Regions from separate parts of the Homo sapiens genome. Here all the other regions are reported to be linked to region 1. Evidence: microRNA targets listed by miRTarBase, many of them from high-throughput screens and not tested one by one. Region 1 holds a microRNA gene; each other region holds the end of a gene's coding sequence.

Evidence for each region. Region 1 holds the annotated microRNA hsa-miR-651-3p (AAAGGAAAGUGUAUCCUAAAAG, at 1,228-1,249, opposite strand). A microRNA usually pairs through its seed, bases 2 to 8, with sites in the 3' UTR of a target mRNA and lowers its output. Matches are read on the target gene's strand: a 7mer-m8 pairs with bases 2 to 8, a 7mer-A1 pairs with bases 2 to 7 and ends in A, and an 8mer does both.
Region 2: miRTarBase lists TSPAN1 as a target of hsa-miR-651-3p. Seed matches in the 3' UTR shown: 7mer-m8 at 2,530-2,536.
Region 3: the mRNA of SPATA2 is a reported target of hsa-miR-651-3p. Seed matches in the 3' UTR shown: 7mer-m8 at 587-593 and 7mer-m8 at 1,668-1,674.

The regions. Positions count from the first base shown.
Region 1 is chrX:8,125,156-8,128,266 of GRCh38, reverse strand. It overlaps MIR651 (microRNA 651), which reads right to left and starts at 1,302; the gene lies at 1,206-1,302. All of the region lies in intron 1 of LOC107985675 (a long non-coding RNA gene), which reads right to left.
Region 2 is chr1:46,185,141-46,188,251 of GRCh38, reverse strand. It overlaps TSPAN1 (tetraspanin 1), which reads right to left. Exons shown (of 9, transcript NM_005727.4): 8 at 2,944-3,027; 9 at 2,290-2,766. The coding sequence ends at 2,719. Among named protein-coding and RNA genes, the nearest start is that of P3R3URF-PIK3R3, 10 kb to the right of the region's middle.
Region 3 is chr20:49,902,781-49,905,891 of GRCh38, reverse strand. SPATA2 (spermatogenesis associated 2) reads left to right here. Exons shown (of 3, transcript NM_006038.4): 3 at 1-2,501. The coding sequence ends at 273. Among named protein-coding and RNA genes, the nearest start is that of SPATA2, 11 kb to the left of the region's middle.

The sequences.
Region 1 (3,111 bases):
CAGAAAGATCACTTGAGATCAGGAGTTTGAGACCAGCCTGGCCAACATGGTGAAATCCTGTCTCTACTAAAAATACAAAAATTAGTTGGGCATGGTGGCACACACCTATAGTCCTGTGGTCCCAGCTACTCGAGAGGCTGAGGCAGAAGATCACTTGAACCCGGGAGGCGGAGGTTGCAGTGAGCCGAGATTGTGCCACTGCACTCCAGAATGGGCAACAGAGCGAGATCCTTTCTTAAAAAAAAAAAAAAGGAAAAAAAATTGGCTAAGAATTTAGGACTTTCTTAAGGAGATAAAGGGAAGATATTTAAGACTCTCATAGAACACAATTTAGACGGCTAAAAAGCTAAAGATGAATGCAATGTATCATAGCATCATCTTACATGAGTAGGTCTTGGGGCTTGGTTTGGTTTGTTTTGCATTTCACAGTCCTTTACCAGAGAGTTGCAGGTTGTTATCAACATTTTCTGCAGACTTTTGGAGATAAACTGTTTTATCTTAGAGTGATTCCTCCTGATACAATATAATGAGAGGAATACAAACCCCTTTATAGAAAAGGCACACATTTCAGCATACAGCCTAGGTAAAAAGTAAGGGTTAACTGGCTTAGTTGAGATTAATTATATAGATGTTTATTTCCCAGTTGTTATGTGTCTGTAACATAAAAGTGGTTATTGACTAAAAGTAGATGTGCTTCATTAATATCAGTGTGAGGAGAAGAGCAACAGGGAAATGCAGGCACCCATGCCGTGTGGGCTGGAATCTGGAAGACGTGGCCCCTGGCCAGGTATGCGCTGATGACAGGTGACATTCACCTTGCAATCTGCCATAAAATGGGAATCATAATACCTGCTCAGTCCTCCAGATGAAATATTGACTGGAAGTCATATATAAAATCGTCAAGCAAAATGCACAATAAAATTAAAATTGCTACTTTTCAAGACATAGGAAGTGTATTAATTGTTTTTTCCTGCTTCTTTTCTGTCAGGATCAACGTTGAATAAAGTTTTGTCAAACACATCTCACTTGATGCATCTCATATCACTTAAAAAATAACATTGGGAAAGTCTTTCCTTTCACTTTATTCATCCTGACTCTTCTTTGCTAAATATTCTGTATACAAATTTCCACATAACATTATGTTTAGAGTTGTACTATCCACACAAAATGGTTCATATATGGATCTCTTGAAGGTTGCATGTCAGAAACACATTAAACTGTCATTGCCTTTTAGGATACACTTTCCTTTTGCATTTTTATTTGAACAAAAGTCAAGCTTATCCTAAAAAGCAGTGATAGATTTCTGTAGATCTAGGGAATTGTTAATACATTTTGTTATCTGTATCATACATTTGTACACAGCTGCTGAGTAATTCAACTGTTTAGAGTTGAACTAATGTTTTTGAACAATAAGTCAAATTCCACGATTTAATCTACATCACAAGAATTTCACTTCCATGGCATTATGGAAAAATGCGCAATCTGTTGTCAAGGTTGAATTTCATTTCTGCTTTCACAAATAAATTATGCCTGTCATTTCCATTAGACACAGTCCTTACCTAGATCGTTACAAAACATCTTTGAGAAGCTTAGGGCATCTCCTATGTTCCACTTCAGATAGAGATATAATTTACTGAGGGGTTAGAAAGAATGGTCAATAAAGCTGACAAAATATTTTAGCATTTGGAAAAAAATTTAAATGCCTTAGTGCAATAATTCCTGGGGAAACTATGGTCGCTAAAATGACTATAATTCTTATTCATGTTCATTCCCGGTTTAGGGGCCTTCCTTAAAGAAACTAATTTCAGAATTTATTTAAGTCATAATAAAGGGTCTTAAAACCACCTGATTTCCTGAAGTTTTCTTTACCACTCTGATTTCCTGGTGCCTTCCTCTCTTCCCTGTGTCTAGGTGGAGAGTGGGAGGTGCACATATGAGGTAATGATGTGTGTGATGATGTAATGACGTGTCTGATTATGCAATGATGTGTTTGGTGATGAAATGATGAATGTAATGATGCATGAGAGGCTCTTGTTGATTGCAGATGATAAGAATAAAAGACTTAGCTCACTACTTCTGGCAGGGTCTGGTAAGAAGGCATTACCACCCTATGCATTCCAACAGAAGGAATCTATTGAAAATGAATCATTTAGAAAGGGGCAGGAGATCCAGAAGAAGGTAGAAAGGGAAGGTAAGATGGCCAAGAGATTAAGAACTGCAGAAAGCTCCTACCACTTCTGTGCTGAAGGAGTGAAAGAGAAAATGGTTTCACCAAGAGCCCGTAATCCCCCACCACTGAGGCTCTGAGAGTATTCATGGCAGCCTTAGAACCAAGACCACCACCTTGCAGGAATGCAGGAGCCCAGGGCCCTGATGCTGTCTCAGGACTCTGGGAGCCTGAAGCTGCCAGCCCGTCACCACCATGGCTTGAGCCAGAGCCTGCACCTGCCGTGCCCCACAGGCTGCTGCATTTGTGCTCGACACTGCTGCCTCACTGCGACCACACTGCCTGGGGACCACGTGGGAGCCAGTCTTTCCCTTATGGAGGCTCTGGACAAAGGGAGGGAACCCAAAAGCCTTCCAGTTCCTGTCTGTGCTTCCCATTGGAAGAGCCCCATATTCCAATCTCACACAGTTCACCCCCACCCCGACCCTTTCAAAACTCATGCAAGTTCTTCTCTTTGGTAATCACTAATCCAACACCCATACTCAGAGGCTCCAGACTGAGAAATGTATTTGTAGGATCCCAGCACCCCGCGACACAGGGGATAGCAGCAGAGAGTAGGAAGGAAGCTGGAAGCAAGAAGATAAATGACTGGTGCTCTTGGCAATCAGTCACAATGCTCCTGGGATAGGGCTGCCTGACTTAGTAAAATGACAGGTTACCCAGTTAAATTTGAATGCCAAATAAATAACAAATCACTTTTAGTTTAAGCATATCCCAAATATTGCATGGGACATGCTTATACTTAAAAAAAAAAACACATTTATTGCTTTTCTGAAATACAAATTCAATGGGTTAACATGTATCCTATCAGGCAACTTGTCCCAGGGGCTATCTGACTTACTCCTTACAGCACTGTTAGACTAAATGGGGCTAAGTTTGCCAGC
Region 2 (3,111 bases), not on the chromosome of region 1:
AGACGGGCTAGGGTGCAGATGGAGATGTAGGAGCAAGGGTGTCTATGGCCCTTAGAGCACTTTGCTATTCAGAATTCTCTATCTGGGCATTTTTGTGGAGAAATGGGTCATGGTCTTCATCAGATTCTCACATAGCCAGTAACCCAAAGAGGTTAGGAAGATCTAAGTTAGTCATAGGGGCACCAGAAAATGGATGGGATTGTCCAGAGGGAGTGAATGAGAAAGCCTACGGCAGGGAAAAGAACATTTAAGGGATCTGTGAAGGGCCTAATGTCAGGAGGATGAGTGTGGAGCACCTCTTCAGAAAGGGTCTGCCTGCCTCTGTACAAGTACAGAACTCCAGCTGGAACTCCAGCCCTCCTGCCTGCTCTCTGCCCTGCCTCTTTCACAGGTGCTTGGAGCCCAACTCGGTGACAGCATGGGTGGTATGTCGCTTGGACATATCTCGCCACCCTGACGCCTTCAGTGTTTGTTGGAGCTGGATATAGTGCCTGAGGTGGCACAACAGCCAGGTTGAGCAGCAATTAGCCCATGATGAGGTAGAGGCCCGCCCTGGGCAAACAAATCCCATGCAGCCTCCACACAGGCACACGGCAGAGGAGAAGTGTGAGAGGCACAGTATGGTGGTGAAGGGGTGAGGCAGGCTAGCTCCTCCCCCTGTCCCGCACCCTAGCAGGCTCCTGGTCTGGCCCTCACAGACCAGCTCTAAGGCACTGTTTGGTTCTGGCCAGGTCCCTCTTCCTTTCTGGGCTCAGCAAGGGGGTGGTGGTTCTGGGCTGCCCTGGAAAAGCTCAGGAAGAGAGTTACAGGGGTCAAAGGGAAGTAAGGAGGGGGACTGGTTTGTTAGGCTGGGCTTTGCTTGGTAGCAGACACTGTACCCTCTTGCCATAGCCTCCCTCAGGCCTCTCACTCCTGGCTCAACAGTGATCAGGTCTATATCAGACATTCTGGCCAGCTGCCCCTTCAAGTGGAACTAGTACCATGTCAGCCAGGACTACACCAGGTGCTGGAGTTCTGGGCCCAAATCTAGGCTGAGCTCTTCACAGAAGCCTGTGGGACTGGGGCAAGTATCTTGGCCTTTCCGATCCCTAGTTTCCTACCTGGAGCATAGGGATAGTTAGGGCTAAAGAAGAGATGAGGTCTAGGTCAGGTGAGGTGGCTCACGCCTGTAATCCCAGCTCTTTGGGAGGCTGAGGCATGTGGATCACCTGAGGTCAGGAGTTCGAGACCAGCCTGGCCAACATGGTGAAACCCTGTCTCTACTAAAAATATAAAAAGTTAGCCGGGCGTGGCCGGGCACGGTGGCTCATGCCTGTAATCCCAGCACTTTGGGAGGCCGAGGTGAGTGGATCACGAGGTCAGGAGATCAAGACCATCCTGGCTAACACAGTGAAACCCCGTCTCTACTAAAAATTCAAAAAATTACCCGGGCGAGGTGGCGGGCGCCTGTAGTGCCAGCTACTCGGGAGGCTGAGGCAGGAGAATGGCGTGAACCCCAGGGGGCGGAGCCTGCAGTGAGCCGAGATCGCGCCACTGCACTCCAGCCTGGGCGACAGCGAGACTCTCTCAAAAAAAAAAAAAAAAAAACACAAAAATTAGCCGGGCATGGTGGCAGGTGCCTGTAATCCCAGCTACTCAGGAGGCTGAGGCAGGAGAACTGCTTGAACCCGGAGGCAGAGTCCGCAGTGAGCCGAGATCACACCATTGCACTCCAGCCTGGGCAACAAGAGCGAAACTCTGTCCCAAAAAAAAAAAAAAAAAAAGAAAAGAAAAGAAAAAGAGGTGAGGTCTGAAGAACACCAGGTAGGCCAGCAGCAACGAAAAAATGAAGTGCTTGCTGAGATCCCAGAAGCAGGGACAGATCTGGGGTTTTGCCTGAGTGGGAAAGGCAGGCAGCCTGGACCCTAGGAAGGGGGCTCCTGAAGGGCTTCCCAGAACCTAAGGAGTGACCCTTTCCCATTGCCCTGGTAAGAATTCGTCACAAGCTTGTTATTTTCATAGCTTTCCAGTCCAGTGCCCCTACCCAGGAGGGGGTAGTTTCAGTCCAAAGTTCTCCCCTTTATAAGGAGGCAGACTGGCCTAACCCAACTGTACTTCTTCATGCCCTCTCAGCCATCCCTCTTAGTTTCCCTCCAAGGCCTGGAACCCAAATGAAGGGGAGAAATAACCACTTCTGACCCCCAACCCCACCCTACTTCCCTCCTTTCCAGGGCCTTCTGAGTTGGCAGCCCCACAGGAATCCGTGGCCAGTTTAGGCCCCTCTCCCCAAGGATACATGAAGAGTCCAACTGGCAACATTGTAACAGGTTTATGCATTTTGAAGTGCCTTCTACACATCCACCCAGAGGCTCTGCTGATTTCACTTATGCCCAGGCTATAAAATGCCTTTCTCTCATCCCCCAGTAGAGCACTGGGATCACCACTAGGCCTAGGGGGCATATCAAGGGTTTAATAGACTGGGGGAATGGGCAACAGAACTGGCTACCTTAGAGGCTCTGGAATGCCCCCCACCCATCCACCCACCAATGGAAGGAAAGTCAGGCATCGCCTAAAAGGAGTGGTCCCTATCTAGCCCCAAGTCTGGAGCAGAAAGGGCAGGTCCATTCTGGCCCAAGTGACATTGTTAGATCCTGTCCCCTCCCCCAATCACTGCTGCTTGCCAGGGTGCCTCTTCACAGTTCCCATGTGGCAGCAGTAGTGGCAGAGGCAGAAGTGGACTTATTGTAGATTGCAGTACAGATACATGGACACAATCATGGCAGCCAGCTGGAGAGGGAGGAACAGGGAGAGATGAGGGAACATGATAGGGATCCTGAAGCCTGTCCCACAGACACCCTACCTGAGGCCCAGTTAGAAGTCTGTTTCCTCCAGAGAGGCCTCAGATGGGTTGAGCAGCCCTGGTCTCATGCCCATGTCCCAGTCCCAGCCTCCTCATCTGCTTACCTCGAGGCCCCCAATTCCAGCTGCCACACCACCCACGGTGACTGCATTAGTTCGGATGTCATACAAAAGCTGATTGAAGCAACCCTTCAGGAAGAGAAAAGAGCATTTATAGTTGGCAGCTGCCCTACTCCCATCCCCGTTTGCCACTCTGAGGCCATGAAAACAGTC
Region 3 (3,111 bases), not on the chromosome of region 1:
GAGAAGTACCCAGGCCAGACTCAGGGCCTCGACCGCCTCCCGCACCTTCACTCCAAATCCAAGCCCTCCACCACGCCCACTTCCCGCTGTGGCTTCTGCAACCGCCCAGGCGCCACCAACACCTGCACCCAGTGTTCAAAAGTCTCATGTGACGCCTGCCTCAGCGCTTACCATTATGACCCCTGCTACAAAAAGAGTGAGCTGCACAAGTTCATGCCCAACAACCAGCTGAACTACAAGTCCACCCAGCTCTCCCATCTCGTGTACAGATAGACCGGCCTCGCCCCTTCCAGCTCCAAGGGCTACATCAACCGACCTTTCGGGTTTCACGGTGAAGAAGTACTAACGCATTGATCTCAGAGGCGGAGGCCTGCACTTGACCATGTAGGTGGCAGAGATCGTGGGCTGGCTGTGTCCACGTGGGAGTTCACTTAGCGACTCAGATATCTCAACCAATGGCTGCTTTGTTGTCTGACAAGGGAGAAGGTGGCACTTCCGTTCAGATTCATTTTGCTAATCTCTCCACTCCCTGTTCAGTTGGTTCTTTTTTTGGGGTTTTGTTTTGTTTTGTTTTGTTGTTTTGTTTTTTCCTTTAAAGAGGATTTCTGTCTCTGGGACCCTCGCTGCACCTACCCCTCCCATTGCAAAGCCAACTTGGACTGGGAAGGGCCCTTCAGGTCACCAAACATCCACCTGGAGCGGCGAGCTAGAGGCCTGTTGGCTTGTGAAATGAGCCCTCCTGCCACACGGGGCCTCTCCCAAAGGCTCATCCCTTGGCCGCCCCCTTCCTAAACACAAGGATCCCCAGCTGGACTCCCCACCCCCTGGCTTCCCCACCTCTCCAGGTGTCAAAGGTGAACCGAGTCCAGTATTAGCTGAATGTCATTTCGTACACCACAGCTCAGTCAGCCCATGGCCTTCGTGAACTTTGCTCCAACACACTGATGTGTGGGCTTCCCACAGCAGGACTGACTTCCCCCTTTCTGTTGTTTGCACATGCCCCTCTTACTGTACTGTCAATAGATATTTTTGAGATTTATTTTTAAATAAATATTCAACTTGCTGTGTGTTTCAACGTGGTTAAAAAAATGAATTATGTAGCTATTTATTAAATGCCCTGGGTTCTTTAGTCTTCCAAGGGAGGGCCTCGCGCCCATTCGTGTTGTATCCTCCACTCACTATGGCCCGAGGGGAGAGGAGAGTTTGGGGCAGGGAGGAACAGACATGAAGCCTCCTTTTCTTGAGCTGGTGGAGAGCCACTGTCTTCCCTGCAGTAACTATCTATACACCTACCTCCAGTGTGCACTTAGGGGGTGAGCGCGGGTGTCGAGGTCTGTGTGTCTGCAGACTGCTAACCTATGACAATTCAGGGACCTCACCTGTCGGACCTATAGCTTGCTGAGCAGGAACCTTGCACTTCACACTTCTTGAGTCTCGTTTCAGAAGGAAAATCATTTGGGATTCCTACTGCCCCTCCATCTCAATCCTCTTCTCTTCACCAGTTTCCAGGACTCATCTGCAACATTTGCAATCTTTTTGCACTAAAAGTGGGCAGGAGTCGGCATGTGCCCATCAGAGAGACGGCTCCTCAGATGCTCAGCTAAGCCTAAGCGCTTCCAAGCCTGAAGGCCCCTTCAGCTTCTCATGTGAATTACCAACCCCTGGATTTTCCTTGTGGGGGTACAAGAGCAGGAGTGGGGCAAGAGTTTGAAAATAAAGCCGCTTCCTTGTGAACTAACTATATTTTAGCCATAACTGTTTGTGATGTACACAATGTTAAGGGATTTATATGCAGTGGGCTTTTCTGGGAGAAAGTTATTCAGCTCTTGAGCAAGTTTAAGTCTGGCTGAATCCTGAGGCCACTGTGAATTTGCTGATGTTCTTCCAACTCAGTTGAGTGATTTTAAGGTTTTCCAAATCTTCTATGGCTCTCTTTTTAATATATATATATATATATATATATATATATATATATATATATATATATATCTATCTGGTAGATCACATGTAGATGTACAGTGTGTATATTAAGCTGAATTTCAACCAACTTTATTACTAAGACCAGCCTAGCAGGGCATTCATCTTTGATGTTCTTCCTTTTCACATTTCAGAATCGGCAATGCCTGGCCCACTCCTGAGAGCTCTAGTTTTCTAGTTTTCCATTTCCAGATTGCGCCAGCATTACAGTAACTAACTCTTTCTAACCAACCGTGATGCCACGTAACTTACCCTATGGACAAAAGCAGGAATGACTAACACATCCTAGGAGGGAAAGTCCAGTGTACCTGTCATCACGGACGCACTGTGGTCACAGACTGGAATACGAAATACTACAGCCCTGCTCCCAGGTGTGCATCTTACTGGATGAGGTTGCTGTGATTGAGATAGTTAAATACATGCTAATTTAAAAATGCAGATGTTTTACATTTGATTTCTACCAAGAGTTGAAATGTTGAGAGATGATTAAAAATAATAATAATAAAGTGTCTTCCATTGTTAAATGAAGTGTTTGGGGTTTTATGTCCCCTGGCCCTGCTTTGAAGTTTGGTTACTTGGGAGTTTATTTTTCCTTAAGCTGTATTTAGTTTTTTAATGACAAGACTTAAATTTTCTCTTCCATGAAACTGACAAATAGCATTTGAGTGCTATACTGCGAGCCTGGCACTTTTTATTTTTTTAATTTTTTGTAAAAAAAATTTTTTTTTTTTTCGAGACGGAGTCTTGCTCTGTCGCCCAGGCTGGAGCACAGTGGCGCTATGTCAGCTCACTGCAAGTTCCGCCTCTTGGGTTCACGCCATTCTCCTGCCTCAGCCTCCCAAGTAGCTGGGACTACCACACCTGGCTAATTTTTCGTTATTTTTAGTAGAGACGGGATTTCACTGTATTAGCCAGGATGGTCTCGATCTCCTGTCCTCGTGATCTGCCTGCCTCGGCCTCCCAAAGTGCTGGGATTATAGGTGTGATCCACTACGCCCGGCCATGTTTTTTTTTTTTAGTTTAAGACGGGCTCTGTTACTTCCCAGTCTGGAGTACGGTTGTGTGATCATGGCTAGCTGTAGCCTGGACCTCTTGGACTTGAGTGATCCTCCCACCTCAGCCTCCCAAGTAGCT